Homo sapiens: one gene and its partner. The protein of the gene in region 1 purifies or fractionates together with the protein of each later gene. This does not show direct contact. Each region holds a gene or a part of one and is shown in the gene's direction. Other genes may lie near its edges.

Region 1 (7,759 bases):
GTTATAGGTTTCCTTGACATAAGTTAGCCCCTTTAACAGTTGAAGTCTTATTTCTGGTCAAAGTTTTTGTTGTTTTGTTTTTTTGAGACGGAGTTTTCGCTCCTATGGCCCAGGCTGGAGTGTAATGACATGATCTTGGCTCACCGCAACCTCCGCCTCCTGGGTTTAAGCGATTTTCCTTTCTCGAGTAGCTGGGATTACAGACGCCCGCCACCACGCCCAGCTAATTTTTGTGTTTTTAGTAGAGATGGGGTTTCGCCGTGTTGGCCAGGCTGGTCTCGAACTCCTGACCTCAGGTAATCCATCTGCCTCGGCCTCCCAAAGTGTTGGGATTACAGGCATGAGACATCGCGCCGGTGTCTGGTCAAAGTTTTAACTGGACAAAGTGTTAACTGTCACAGGAATTTGATGTTGATTTTATTACTTACCGTACATTAAAGGCTCTTCGTGCATCTTAATTCATCTACTGTAAGGTAACTTAAGAGTATTGGTTCTTTCTCTCAGGGCCATGATCCAAAGGAACCAGAGCAGTTGAGAAAACTGTTTATTGGTGGTCTGAGCTTTGAAACTACAGATGATAGTTTACGAGAACATTTTGAGAAATGGGGCACACTCACAGATTGTGTGGTAAGTTACTAAGAGAACAGAAGGGTTCTAAGGGGTGTAGAGAACCGGTGGAGGTGTTTTCAACGTTATAAAACTTTTTATTTTGTAGGTAATGAGAGACCCCCAAACAAAACGTTCCAGGGGCTTTGGTTTTGTGACTTATTCTTGTGTTGAAGAGGTGGATGCAGCAATGTGTGCTCGACCACACAAGGTTGATGGGCGTGTAGTGGAACCAAAGAGAGCTGTTTCTAGAGAGGTATTTTAATAATACATTGTGTAATATGTGAAATTGTTGTGAAAGTTTGTTTCTTGACTTAATATATTACTTTATTTGTAGGATTCTGTAAAGCCTGGTGCCCATCTAACAGTGAAGAAAATTTTTGTTGGTGGTATTAAAGAAGATACAGAAGAATATAATTTGAGAGACTACTTTGAAAAGTATGGCAAGATTGAAACCATAGAAGTTATGGAAGACAGGCAGAGTGGAAAAAAGAGAGGATTTGCTTTTGTAACTTTTGATGATCATGATACAGTTGATAAAATTGTTGGTAAGTAGCAATTTATGGTAACTTGAATGAGAAAGTAGAACTGGTTTTTCTGTTTTGAACTAAATTTGCTAAATTGTAATTTTCTGTTGCGTGTAATGGCATTTATAGTGTATAGTCAATTTTCATAGTGTCTGCCTGTGTAATCAGTATCCAGATCAAGAAATAAACATAAACATCTCAGAATGCTCCTTCATTACCAGAGTCACTACCTGATTATGTCTTAATGGGTTACATAATGACAGAGGGTATCTCATATATGTGCTTTTCCAAACATAAAATAACTTTTTGTTTTGTTTGATTGAAAAAAAATTTAGTTCAGAAATACCACACTATTAATGGGCATAATTGTGAAGTGAAAAAGGCCCTTTCTAAACAAGAGATGCAGTCTGCTGGATCACAGAGAGGTGAGTAGGACCATACACATGTATACAGTGGATATGAGTGGTGTTTGTAAGGTTCTTAAAAATCTCCCTTGCCTGTATTAAAGGTCGTGGAGGTGGATCTGGCAATTTTATGGGTCGCGGAGGGAACTTTGGAGGTGGTGGAGGTAATTTTGGCCGTGGTGGAAACTTTGGTGGAAGAGGTAGGCTGTTTATCTTCTAAGTACATGGATACCTGACATTTTGGTAAGTTGAATATATTATTTTAATTCATTTCTTGTTTTTCCTCAGGAGGCTATGGTGGTGGAGGTGGTGGCAGCAGAGGTAGTTATGGAGGAGGTGATGGTGGATATAATGGATTTGGAGGTGATGGTAGGTGGCTTATTTTCATTGATGTTTGATATTTTAACTTTCTTTACTTATTGAAAATTATTTATTACACTTTTCTAATTTTAGTTAAAACTTCAGTGGCTAAATGGTTAAGGTGTATTTCCAAACTGTACATGGAAGAACAGGAACCCTTTTTCCCCTGGAGAGACATTAGCTGCTCTTTTTCAGCAAGTAGTAGGGGTTGAGCTAGAATTGTTCTATTAAGTCTGAGACTATATTTTTCTTAGTGAAATTTTGTAAAATGAAAACTGATTTTCTTTTTTACTATCAGAAGATGGGTTACACATTTATTTTTCATTCTTACTAGTGCAGATACTTGATACTCTATTATTATTAGGTATTACCAGGCTTCAGAGTGCTAAATCAATTCATTGGCTTATTTGCCAGTGGCTTAAATGTAATATAAAACCAGAGTTGAGTAATTCTAGCTATTCAGGAGGCTGAGGCAGAGGGGTTGCTTGAGGTGAGGATTTTGAGACTAGTCTGAGCAACATAAGGAGACCGTATATCTAGAAAAATAAAATAGGGGAACATGGTGGCACATGCCCATAGTCTAGCTACTCAGGAGACTGAGGTGGGAGAATGGCTTGAGCCCAGGAGTTCAAGGCTGCATTGCTGTGGTTGCACCACTGTACTTGAGCCCGGGCAACAGAGCAAGACCCAGTCTCTTACACACACACCAGAATTGAATAACGTGACTATACACTTAAGTTTTTGTGTGGTCTTGTTATTTGTTGTTTTTTTAGGTGGCAACTATGGCGGTGGTCCTGGTTATAGTAGTAGAGGGGGCTATGGTGGTGGTGGACCAGGATATGGAAACCAAGGTGGTGGATATGGTGGAGGTGGAGGATATGATGGTTACAATGAAGGAGGAAATTTTGGCGGTGGTAAGCATTCACTTGTTTTATTTAAATGTTAAATATTCAGTGTTGCTAACAGTTCCCATGACACATATTTGGAAAGTGTTAAAAGCGTTTGATCAAATTTTATGTTCTATAAGAAAAATACTAAAATGGTTGGTAGTTCAAACCAAATTTTCTTGACTTTGCTGGTTATTTAGTAAAATGTACAAATGTACTCAGCTCTCTTTTTTCTTTTTTTTTTTTTTTTTTTTTTTTTTTGAGATGGAGTCTTGCTCTGTTGCCCAGGCTGGAGTGCAGTGGCGTGATCTCAGCTCATTGCAATCTCCGCCTCCCGGGTTCATGCGATTCTCCTGCCTCAGCCTCCCTAGTAGCTGGGACTACAGGCGTATGCCAGCACGCCCGGTTAATTTTTTTGCATTTTTAGTAGAGATGGGGTTTCACCATGTTAGCCAGGATGGTCTCGATCTCCTGACCTTGTGATCTGCCCGCTTCTGCCTCCCAAAGTACTGGGATTACAGGCATGAGCCACTGCACTCAGCCAAATGTACTGAATTTTTAGTTGAGTAGTAAAAAATGGACATTTACCAGTATTCAGTACATGTTTTACGTGTAAAAGATTGGGAGTTTATTTATTGCCAAAATTTTACTTAACTCCTTGGTACTTTTAAACTGGACAACCGGGAATAAATTGTTTGAATACTCCAGACGTGTTGAAGTGAGCAGGTTGCCATCTAGGGCCCAGGTTAACAAAGTACTTTGGGTCTTAATATAATATGTCACAGGTAGTTGAAGCGTTTAAGCAAGCTAGTGTATGTAGGTCATTAAGCCACAATACTGTTAAAAGCTTTCTTAGGAATGCACTGTTTTATTGGACCTAATTAACATGTCAATGACAGATGAGTGGAAGTTTTAACAAGTTAGAATGCCTTCTCATTGTTTTAAATGTTATACTGCTTCAGAATCATAGTGAATGGAACACTGGCAATTTTAATGGTGTTAATGGTAGAGAGAACATGCGCCTAGAGGACAGCATTTAATATAAACAAAATGTTGATGGTCTTTTAATATCCTGACATCAGTTACCCCAAGTGGTGCTACCACAGTGATGTGTATAAGCATGCTACCATAATTCTCAAAAGATAATAGTTACATACGTTAAAAGGGGAAAATGATGATTGTGTAGGTAAACCACACATAAAACCTTTCTGATTTCAGGTAACTATGGTGGTGGTGGGAACTATAATGATTTTGGAAATTATAGTGGACAACAGCAATCAAATTATGGACCCATGAAAGGGGGCAGTTTTGGTGGAAGAAGCTCGGGCAGTCCCTATGGTGGTAAGTACTTTCTTAAATCAATTCTTTAGAGCCTTTTTAATTTAAAAAATGTGCATACTTCTTTTAAAATACTATGTATATTTTCAGGTGGTTATGGATCTGGTGGTGGAAGTGGTGGATATGGTAGCAGAAGGTTCTAAAAACAGCAGAAAAGGGTAGGTATCTTTAAATTTTTATTATGATGATAAAAGAATATGTGGAACTGTTCACTGAGTGTAATAATTTTTTTATCCTGTATTATTCAACAGGCTACAGTTCTTAGCAGGAGAGAGAGCGAGGAGTTGTCAGGAAAGCTGCAGGTTACTTTGAGACAGTCGTCCCAAATGCATTAGAGGAACTGTAAAAATCTGCCACAGAAGGAACGATGATCCATAGTCAGAAAAGTTACTGCAGCTTAAACAGGAAACCCTTCTTGTTCAGGACTGTCATAGCCACAGTTTGCAAAAAGTGCAGCTATTGATTAATGCAATGTAGTGTCAATTAGATGTACATTCCTGAGGTCTTTTATCTGTTGTAGCTTTGTCTTTTTCTTTTTCTTTTCATTACATCAGGTATATTGCCCTGTAAATTGTGGTAGTGGTACCAGGAATAAAAAATTAAGGAATTTTTAACTTTTCAATATTTGTGTAGTTCAGTTTTTCTACATTTTAGTACAGAAACTTTAACAAAATGCAGTTTCGAAGGTGTTTCCTTGTGAGTTAACAAGTAAAGAAGATCATTGTTAATTACTATTTTGTATGAATTTTGCTAAAGTTAACTGTAAAGAAACACCTGCTGACTTGCAGTTTAAGGGGAATCTATTCTCCCCATTTCCAAACCATGATATGAATGGGCGCTGACATGTGGAGAGAATAGATAATTTGTGTGTTTGCAATGTGTGTTTTAGATAAATAGGATTGGGTATTTAAATTAGCATTTGTGAATTTAATAGCATTAAGATTACCTTCAAATGAAAAAAAATCTCAAAATTTCTATTTGGTTTTTGTGCATTTTCTTTTAAAATGTAATCATATGATTTTAGTGTGTTAGACTTGCTGAGTCCTAGCTGTGTTTAGAACATCTCTATTCTACATTTACCTTGGTCAAATTTGAACTGCTGCCATAGGTTTTGGGTGTAAAGAATGTTTACTGCCCTCCATTTAAATTCTGAAAAGGGATGGTGGATGTTTTCCCTCTCCTACGTTAGAAACCATTCTTAAAAACTTTTGAAAATATAGAACCATTAAGCCTGCTATATCTGAGCAAATTAGTGGGTACCTTTTTTTTCTTATTTAAAGCACAAGAGGCCCATAAATCTTGAGTTACTTTAAATTCTTTTTTTTGATACAAGTTTTCAGAGCAAGAGAATAAAAATCATGTGTTATTAAACCCCTAACTGGCTGGCATGCTTTCCTGTTTGTATTCTATACATTTTGCTGGATGAAACCAAGGATAGTTCAGGTATAATTGTCCAAAATAACCTAACTGCAGCAGAAATGTAGCACAGTTGCTTAGTACAGGCTTCTCACTTCCTACAGACCTGAATTCAAATTTGGATAGTCTGAGTTCTTAAATTCCCAAAGAACACACTGTTATTTCTTGTGTATATTTCAACATAAATCATGTTGTTACCAATTTGTTTGGAAGGCCCTGGTTGAGAAGAGTTTTAGTTAATAAGGTCATATATACATATATTAATATAAACCAATGTCTACTGTTTTGCTCCAGCTAGTGCTTACAGTTTCATTCGAGCCCTGAGTATGTGCCCTGCTGTTACTCTCTTTGGTAGTTGAACGTTGAATTCAAGTCTTTTGTTTTAAGAAGTACTAAGCAAACAAGCAATAAAAAGGGGAATGGGGTGTGCTAGTGTTTGAATATGCTCTCTTGTTGCTCTAATTCTGTGCCTCTGTGCATTAATATTTGGATGCATGCAATGCCAGCATGGAAATTGGTCTTCACACATACTGCAGTTTTCCAGAAACATTCACAAACCAATAAATGTAACAGACATTCCATTTGTTAATGGGCATATATGTGAAAAGCAGTGTAGAAAATAGGCTAATATTAGAAAATGGTTAAGTCCTAAATAACTTCAAGTGTGGTTATATAATGGACACTGTCAATGTTCATAACTTAAACCTGGGTACCTGGTCAAAATAATGCTTGGGAAACATTAAAATTGAGCTAAATTGTCTCAAGTTCTTTTATTCATATAAATAAAGTTTAAAGGAATGGGGGAGATTAACATTTCCTGTTTTATGTTTGTGAAATTGTTTGACACAACCTTGACAGTATCCTTTAATGGCATGAGGTTAATTGTACTGTTAACCAACTTTCTATGTTCTGGAACTAGTATTATAGTGAAAACATTTACAGTAAGTTGATGTTTACAACCTATAAGCAGGTGAAATCTGTGTATGTGACCTGTTTATAAGTTGTATTAGCTTAGCTCTTGTGAACAGTGTGGAAAAGTAAGCCATGAGGAGAGCGATTTAACCACCTTTAAAGGACCTAAGATGTGCTTTTTAAGCACAGTGTGGATCACAGAAACTCACTAAGACAGGACTTCAGCAGCCTTTTGTGTTTGGACAAGTCAGCATAAATAAAGAATGACAAGGCAGCAGCAAGAGCTTCAACTACAGAGAAGTGAAGGCATAAGATACTATGATGATAGTGAGCAACTTTCCAAAAGCTAGTTAAATCTGCTTATTACAACTGAAATATCGAAGAAAGTCTAGCAGGAAGGAGCTCTTCGCCTTTTGGAACATCAATGAGAGATAGTTGCCACAGTCACTAGGTCTAGCATTTAGACCTGCAAGGAAGGGCAATAAGCATTAGGTAAGGCTTGAATTTGAATTTTTTCACTAATTAAAGAGTAATTTTTTGTAAAGCAAGGTAAGAGTAATCTTTTTGATTTGCAGGTTGAATGAGAACCCTACTTGCCTAAATGAGGAATGTCTTTCCTACCATCTAAAATACGAAGGTTTCTGGCTGGGTAAGGTTTGTAGTTGACAGTAAAACCTGATGACACCATTTGTTTCCCTGCAAGTCTACATTACATATTTCACAACTTTGTCCCTCTCTAGTAGGCACATTGGAAAAATTCTTCAACTGAAAACTACCTTGGTACCATGTCCTACACGTTTTAAACCTTAGTTTTAAAAATTCCCCTGCGAAATAGCCATAAGTATTCATATCAAGTCAGTTGTGACTCCTTGTGTATACAATTCATTTTTTGTGTCTTCAGGGTAAACTCAATTTTTGGTAAAGTGGTTTCAGCTTTTGTGAAAACCGTTTTGGTGTGTAAGCATGACACACAACAGACTCAGTAAGCTGCCCATCCTCATACTAGGAAAACACCTTCAAAGGAACATTAAAAGTTACCAGGGCCAGGCACAGTGGCTCACGCCTGTAATCCCAGCACTTTGGGAGGCTGAGGCAGATGGATCCCAAGTCCAGGAATTTGAGACGAGCCTGGGCAACATAGTGAGAGCCTGTCAACAAAAAATAGAAAAATTAGTTGGGCTTGGTGATACACATCTGTAGTCCCAGCTATTTGGGAGGCTGCCTTGATATCAGGCAGTCGAGGCTGCAGTGAGCTGACTGCCCCACTGTATTCCAGCCTGGGTGACCCCATCTCAAAGAAGAAAAGTTA
Region 2 (7,759 bases), on another chromosome or scaffold:
CTTGTGCCGCCCTCCCTGGTGCAGGATGAAGCTCTGCCCACGGTCCTGGTCGGCGTGTTCATCGAACAGCCCACGCCGTTTGTGTCCCTGTTCTTCCAGCGGCTCCTGCGGCTCCACTACCCCCAGAAACACATGCGACTTTTCATCCACAACCACGTGAGTAACAGGCGCTCTGTGGGGTCGTCATGTGGCTTAGATCCAGGGCCCAGCTTCACAAGGTAGCCCGAGACCTCTGAGGGTCTCACCGAATCTAGCTTATCTGGGCCAAATGACAATCACCAGTGGACTGTGTCCCCAAATCACTGAGTTAACTTTGGAGTCAGACTGGGTGAGTTTGAATCCCAGCGCCGCTATTTTATTGGCTGTGTGACCTTGGGCACATTACTCAACCTCTCTGTGCTTTAGTTTCTCATCTATAAAATAGGCATAAAAGTCGGGCGCGGTGGCTCATGCCTGTAATCCCAGCACTTTGGGAGGCCCAGGTGGGCAGATTATCTGAGGTCGGGAGTTCGAGACTAGCCTGACCAACATGGTGAAACCCTGCCTCTACTAAAAATACAAAATTAAGCTGGGTGTGGTGGCAGATGCCTGTAATCCCAGCTACTCAGGAGGCTGAGGCAGGAGAATCGCTTGAACCTGGGAGGCAGAGGTTGCAGTGAGCCGAGATTGCGCCATTGCACTCCAGCCTGGACAACAAGAGCAAAACTCCGTCTCAAAAAAAATAAAAATAAATAAATAAATAAATAAAATAAAATAGGGATAATAATTGTGCAATCACACAGAATTGCTGCAAGGGCTAAGCAAGCTGACATGCGAAGTTCGTAAAAGGTGCCTGGTGCACAGGACGCATCTAGTTGCTTCTAACTGTTGTCATCTTCACTTCCATCCCTGTCACTGTTAATCCTTCCTACCTTCCTAATTGTACCTGGTGGCAGTCAAATTGGTTTTCTTTTCTTTTTTTTTTTTTTTGAGACAGAGTCTCGCTGTGTCACCCAGGCTGGAGTGCAGTGGCACGATCTCGGCTCACTGCAACCTCTGCCTCTTGGGTTCAAGCGATTCTCCTGCCTCAGCCTCCCAAGTAACTGAGACTACAGGCATGCGCCATCACAACTGGCTAATTTTTTGTATTTTTTTTTTTTTTTTTGAGACGGAGTCTTGCTCTGTTGCCCAGGCTGGAGTGCAATGGCGTGATCTCAGCTCAGTGCAACCTCTGCCTCCCAGGTTCAAGCCATTCTCCTGCCTCAGCCTCCCGAGTAGCTGGGATTACAGGCGCCTGCCACCGTGCCTGGCTAATTTTTTGTATTTTAGTAGAGATAGGGTTTCACTATGTTGGCCAGGATGGTCTCGATCTCCTGACCTCGTGATCTGCCTGCCTCCGCCTGCCAAAGTGCTGCGATTACAGCCATGAGCCACCGCACCCAGCTGGATGGTTGTTTTTCCTTTTTTTTTTTTTTTTGAGATGGAGTCTTGCTGTGTCTCCCAGGCTAGAGTGCAATGGTGCGATCTTGGCTCACTGCAACCTCCGCCTCCCAAGTTCAAGCAGTTCTCTGCCTCTGCAACCTCCGCCTCCCGGGTTCAAGCAGTTCTCTGCCTCAGCCTCCTCCCGAGTACCTGGAATTACAAGTGCCTGCCACCATGCCCGGCTAATTTTTGTATTTTTAGTAGAGACGTGGTTTCACCATCTTGGCCAGGCTAGTCTTGAACTCCTGACCTGGTGATCTACCCGCCTCGGCCTCCCAAAGTGCTGCGAATACAGGCGTGAGCCACTGTGCCTGGCCTGGACTGTTGTTTTTCAAAGCGAAGTTGAGGATCACCTGGCACATTTTGTAACAAAGTGGATCTCTGGGCCACACCCAGGAATCAACAATGTCTCTGGATGTGGGATCCTGAGCGTGGTGGCGGAGCTCTATCCTGATGACAGAGGCTCTTAGGAGGCCTGACCTGGTCAGAGGAGAATGGGCAAAGGATGGCCAGGGAAGGGTGTTCCTGGCACAGGGCTGGCATGGGCAAAGGTCTGGAGACAGGAAAGCAGATGGCCGGGGTGCCAGAGATGAAGGGGCACAGCCTGGCAGTGACAGGAGGTGCTACAGTCCCTGGGTGGAAGCTGTGTCCTCCTCCTCACCCCCGCATCCCCTTCCCCATCCCCAACCCCAGGAGCAGCACCACAAGGCTCAGGTGGAAGAGTTCCTGGCACAGCATGGCAGCGAGTACCAGTCTGTGAAGCTGGTGGGCCCTGAGGTGCGGATGGCGAATGCAGATGCCAGGAACATGGGCGCGTGAGTTGTGGGCCACAGTACTCTCCACTGACAGTGGGGGCAGGGGAGCTGTGGCTGTGGTAAGGAGCAGCAGGCTGAGTGACAGGAGTTCAGAAGGCTGTGTGTGCTCTAGCAAGTTCCTGCCCCTTTCTGGGCCTTGGAGTTTCCATCTGTCAAAAGGGGAAATAGCCTCTGTCCTGCCAACCCCCGGGGCTCCTGGGCAGGGCTGAGCCATGTTATTTGGGTTCAGGAAGCAAATCAGAGAAAGAGGAAGGACTGGGGGCAAAAGTAGACAAAGGCTGACTATTAGGGAGCCAACCTTGAATGTTTTACTTTATTATATATAAAAAAAAAAGGCCGAGAGCAGTGGCTCATGCCTGTAATCCCTGCACTTTGAGAGGCCAAAGTTGAAGGATTGCTTGAGGCCAGGAGTTCAAGAGCAGCCTGGGCAACATAGCGAGACCCTATCTCTTCAAAAATTAAAAAAAAATAGCCAAGTGTGGTGGCTTGAACCTGGGGTCCCAGCTACTGAAGAAGCTGAGGCAGGAGGACCTCTTGAGCCCGGGAAGTCGAGGTTGCATGAGCTATGATTGCACCACTGTGTTCCAGCCTGGGAAACAGAGCGAGACCTTGTCTCATAAAGCAAAACAAAAACAAAGAAAGAAGTAATTTGTGTTGCTTGTAGAAGAGTCAGACAGTCCAGATCAAAGGTTGGCAAACTTCCTGCTAAGGATTAGATCATAAATCTTTGCAAATTGGCTCTGCCGGCTCTGTGACAACCCTCAGCTCTGCCCTAGTAGCACAGAGGCTGCATTCCAGCAAAATTTCATTTATGGACACTGAAATTTGACTTTCATGTCATTTATTTTTTTTTCTTTTTGAGACTTGGTGTCACTCTTGTCATCCAGGCTGGAGTGCAGTGGCAGGATCATAGCTTACTGTAGCCTCAAACCCCTGGGTTCAAGTGATCCTCCTGCCTCAGCCCCCCAAGAAGCTGGGACTACAGGCATGTGCCATCACATCCAGTTAATTTTTAAATATTTATTTATTTATTTATTTAGAGACTGAGTCTCACTCCGTCACTCAGGCTGGAGCGCAGTGGCGCGATCTCGGCTCACTGCAACCTCCCCGTCCCAGGTTCAAGCCATTCTCTTGCCTCAGCCTCTCAAGTAGATGGGATTACAGGTGCTTGCCACCACACCTGGCTAATTTTTGTATTTTTAGTAGAGACGAGGTTTCACCATGTTTTCCAGGCCTGTCTCAAGCTCCCGAACTCAAGTGATCCGCCCGCCTTGGCCTCCCTAAGTGCTGGGATTACAGGTGTGAGCCACTGCGCCTGGTTAATTTATTTATTTTTATTTTTTGTAGAGACAGGATCTTGCTATGTTGCCCAGGCTGGTCTCAAACTCCTGGCTTGAAGTTATCCTCCCGTCTCAGCCTCCCAGAGTGCTGGGATTACAGGCATGAGCCACTGCACCTGGTGATGACCTTCACATAATTTTTACATCTTCTTTTGATTTTTGTTTTCTTTTTTTTTTTTTTTTTTTTGAGATGGAGTCTCGCTCTGTCACCCAGGCTGGAGTGCAATGGTGCAATATTGGCTCACTGCAAGCTCTGCCTCCCACGTTCACGCCATTCTCCTGTCTTAGCCTCCCGAGTAGCTGTGACTACAGGTGCCCACCACCATGCCCGGCTAATTTTTTGTATTTTTAGTAGAGACGGGGTTTCACCGTGTTAGCCAGGATGGTCTCGATCTCCTGACCTCGTGATCCATCCACCTCAGCCTCCCAAAGTGCTGGGATTACAGGCGTGAGCCACCACGCCCTGCCGATTTGTTTTTTTCTTGAAACAACTTAAAAACATAAAATCAGCCAAGTGCAGTGGCTGTAATCCCAGCACTTTGGGAGGCCAAGGATTGCTTGAGCTGGGGAAGTTGAGGCTGCAGTGAGCTATGATTGTGCATTCCAGCTTGGCTGACACAGTGAGACCCCCATCTCTAAAAAAGGAAAAAAGGCCGGGTGCAGTGGCTCGCATCTGTAATCCCAGCACTTTGGGAGGCCGAGGCGGGCAGATCACCTGAAGTCAGGAGTTCGAGACCAGCCTGGCCAACATGGTAAAACCCTGTCTCTACTAAAAATACAAAAATTAGCCTGGCATGGTGGTGCACGCCTCTAATCCCAGCTACTTGGGAGGCAGAGGCAGGAGAATCGCTTGAACCCGGGAGGTGGAGGTTGCAGTGAGCTGAGATTGTGCCATTGCATTCCAGCCTGGGCAACAGAGTGAGACTCGTTCTCAAAAAAATAAAATAAAATAAAAATAAAAAAAAGAAAAACATAAAGCTGTTCTTAGCCCATGAGCTGTACAAAACCAGGCAGGGCCAGAGTTTGACTCACAGACCCTCGTTTGCTGAGTCCTGTACCAGATAAACAAAAGTAACACAGATTTTTAAGGCTTTTGGTACAAGTTACCAAATTGCATTTCAGAAAGGCAGCCCCAGCTTACTCCCCACCCTGGGCCATGTAGGCACCTGTGGGCTGTGTTCTTCCCAGTACCAGGATTTTCAGGGCACTTGATACCAGTTGCCAACCTCTGGGCCTTGGGTGAGAGAGCCCAGCAGTCCAGGGGTTTGGGACTCAGAGTCGGGAGGAACCTTTGAGGCTGCTGGTGTGACCTCTCTAAAGCCCCTTGGCTGATATGTGGTGAAGCCAGACTGTGGTCACAGATGTGAGCAGCCACCAGTAGCTCCAGGATCAGGTGCACTGACCCTGTGTCCTCCTCCTTGCAGAGACCTGTGCCGGCAGGACCGCAGCTGCACCTACTACTTCAGCGTGGATGCTGACGTGGCCCTGACCGAGCCCAACAGCCTGCGGCTGCTGATCCAACAGAACAAGTGAGGCTGCTCCGTCTGCACCCAGCACTGCTCAGGACTGGCCTGGTCCTGGGGTGGCAGCCCTCCTTGCCTTCCTCCTCCTCCTCCTCATCCACCTCCTCTTCCTCCTCTTTTTCCTTCTCCTGCTCCTCTTTCTCCTCCTCGTCTTCCTCCTTGTCTTCCTCCTCCTCTTCCTCTTCCTCCTCTTCCTCCTTTTTCCTCCTCCTCCTCGTCTTCCTCATCCTCTTTCTCCTCCTCCTCTTCCTCCTCCTCCTTGGCCTCACCTATTACCCAGAGCTGTGGATCCCCAGCCTGATACCCCAGGTTCTGATAGAGAAGGTGTCCTGCCCTGTCTGCTCCTGGCTGCCCCATGGGAGGGAGCAGGTACCAGAAGAGCCAAACCCCCGACACCCCGGCCAAGGCACTGCCTGTCTCAGTGAGGTGCTTGGGGATCCCTGCGTGCAGGTTGAGGGGCACCTACCTCCCCCCATCCCTGGTTAGTGCTGTCTCCTACTCCCAGTGGGCAGCGACCTCCTACTGAGGTGCTCCCTTCCCTCAGGAACGTCATTGCCCCGCTGATGACCCGGCATGGGAGGCTGTGGTCGAACTTCTGGGGGGCTCTCAGTGCAGATGGCTACTATGCCCGTTCCGAGGACTACGTGGACATTGTGCAGGGGCGGCGTGTGTGAGTACCTGCAGGGTGGGGGTGGGTGGGGGACACCTTCATCTGGCTTCTGCCTGGGCTTGTGGGGCTCCCTCCCTATTATTCCTGTTCTTGTTACCCTCAAATTCCTGTTGAACCTGAAGCAAGGAAGACTTCAGTTAGACACACAGAAGGACTTCCTGACAAATAGGCCCATGTGTCCAGGGCGGGGGAATCAAATCAGCACAATTGTGCCCCCCTAGCCTGTGACTTCCCTTCTCACACCCAGACTCCAGGCTATGACTCCCCACCACCACCCTGTGACCCCCTCCATCTTCCCCACCACCAGCCTCTGACCCCCACCCGCTTTCTGTCTCTCCCACAGTGGTGTCTGGAATGTGCCCTATATTTCAAACATCTACTTGATCAAGGGCAGTGCCCTGCGGGGTGAGCTGCAGTCCTCAGATCTCTTCCACCACAGCAAGCTGGACCCCGACATGGCCTTCTGTGCCAACATCCGGCAGCAGGTCAGCCAGGAGCGGGCAGCACAGGACGCCCTCTGGATGGGGCAGGCGGGAAGGTGGGCCTCCAGCTCTGACCCTCATGGTGGGCCGCCTTGTCACCGTAGGCCTGGGAGCTCCAGAGATTCTAGCAGGGCATCTCGGAAGCCACCAGGGCCTGCTGGAGGAATGGGGGCCGTCGGGCACGAGGGCTGGTCCTCAGGGGTCTGCAGGGACCATTTTAGCTGACCTGGTTTTTATACCATCTATTTTATTTACATTTTTGGAATAGCCCAAAGAAAACGGAACTTTCCACCTAAAGGTACTCCAAGTGATGTGCCCGAGAGACACCTCACCCTGTCTCTGCGCCCCACCCCATATATTTTTGTGACTTTTTTTTTTTTTTTAAACATGCAGCAAGATGAAGTTTTCCCCTGTGACCAACATTTCAGGACCAGAACACGCTCCTTTTCTTTTACGCATTTTTTCTTTCATTCTGTGTTCAGTCCTCTGGGAAGACTTCCCTGATCACATTCTTAGTGTCAGGCCTGGGCTGGGCCCTGGGGACATAGCGGTGACTGCACTTGGTCTCTGATATTGGGAACTTCAGTTCGGCGGGTGGAGGAGGCTGCACTGTTGCCCGTCTGGGAGCGTGCAGGGGAGGGGTGAGGGCAGGGGAGGGGTGGGGGAGCGCCTCTTCCACCGGGCCTGTCCTCCCCAGGATGTGTTCATGTTCCTGACCAACCGGCACACCCTTGGCCATCTGCTCTCCCTAGACAGCTACCGCACCACCCACCTGCACAACGACCTCTGGGAGGTGTTCAGCAACCCCGAGGTGAGGCCAGGGTGGGCACATAGGGGCTGGGAGCAAAGGGGCCCAGTGATCCTGCAGTCGGAGGGACTTCCCTCTCAGAGTCTTACAACAGCCAGGACCCCTGTAGGCCACCTGCCACCCTCCCTTCACCCCAGGAGGCTATAGGGCAGGATTTGGGTAGGGAGAGAAGGGTGTCCAGAGAGGCAACACCATCTATTGGAGGAGGGACCAGGACTCAAGAGGCCTGGGTTTGTGGCCTAGATCTGCCATCATCTGGGACTTAGTTGAGCCTTCCAGCTTTGGGGACCTTAGTTATCTTAGCTCCAAAATGGGTATACTGTCCCAGCCTGTCTTACCCATGAGGGTGTTGTGATGATCAGAAGGGGAGACAGTTGTAACTGTTTCTAGACGTTGGGAGCTCACAGCTGATGGGTGTAAGCACATGCCTGCACACAGACATATACACACAAGCACACACATGTACATACATGTGCAAACACCACCTCCTATGGGCACACCTGTGCACCCAGACAACACACACGCACCCAGTGGGTGCAGGTGAACACCTGCCTCTGTCAAGCACGTACACCTTCACTCCCACTTTGAGGGGTCTGCTCTGAGCATCCCTGGCAGTTGAGCCAATGGTGAGGACCCTAGCCTGCTTCCCACTTCCCACAG

What was found. Proteins that work in one complex are often made in the same cells at the same time.
Region 2: the proteins of HNRNPA3 (region 1) and PLOD1 purify together in Homo sapiens (affinity purification with mass spectrometry; 2 studies listed by BioGRID and IntAct, with this or other methods). This does not show direct contact.

The regions. Positions count from the first base shown.
Region 1 is NC_000002.12:177,215,035-177,222,793, forward strand, and holds part of HNRNPA3 (heterogeneous nuclear ribonucleoprotein A3), read left to right. Parts: intron 1-504; coding exon 505-627; intron 628-715; coding exon 716-862; intron 863-943; coding exon 944-1,154; intron 1,155-1,468; coding exon 1,469-1,558; intron 1,559-1,641; coding exon 1,642-1,737; intron 1,738-1,825; coding exon 1,826-1,906; intron 1,907-2,670; coding exon 2,671-2,811; intron 2,812-4,002; coding exon 4,003-4,125; intron 4,126-4,212; coding exon 4,213-4,265; 3' UTR 4,266-4,280; intron 4,281-4,373; 3' UTR 4,374-7,759. UniProt on the Homo sapiens protein: Plays a role in cytoplasmic trafficking of RNA. Binds to the cis-acting response element, A2RE. May be involved in pre-mRNA splicing.
Region 2 is NC_000001.11:11,958,492-11,966,250, forward strand, and holds part of PLOD1 (procollagen-lysine,2-oxoglutarate 5-dioxygenase 1 isoform 2 precursor), read left to right. Parts: intron 1-24; coding exon 25-156; intron 157-2,154; coding exon 2,155-2,276; intron 2,277-5,040; coding exon 5,041-5,145; intron 5,146-5,683; coding exon 5,684-5,809; intron 5,810-6,152; coding exon 6,153-6,294; intron 6,295-6,988; coding exon 6,989-7,102; intron 7,103-7,759. UniProt on the Homo sapiens protein: Part of a complex composed of PLOD1, P3H3 and P3H4 that catalyzes hydroxylation of lysine residues in collagen alpha chains and is required for normal assembly and cross-linkling of collagen fibrils.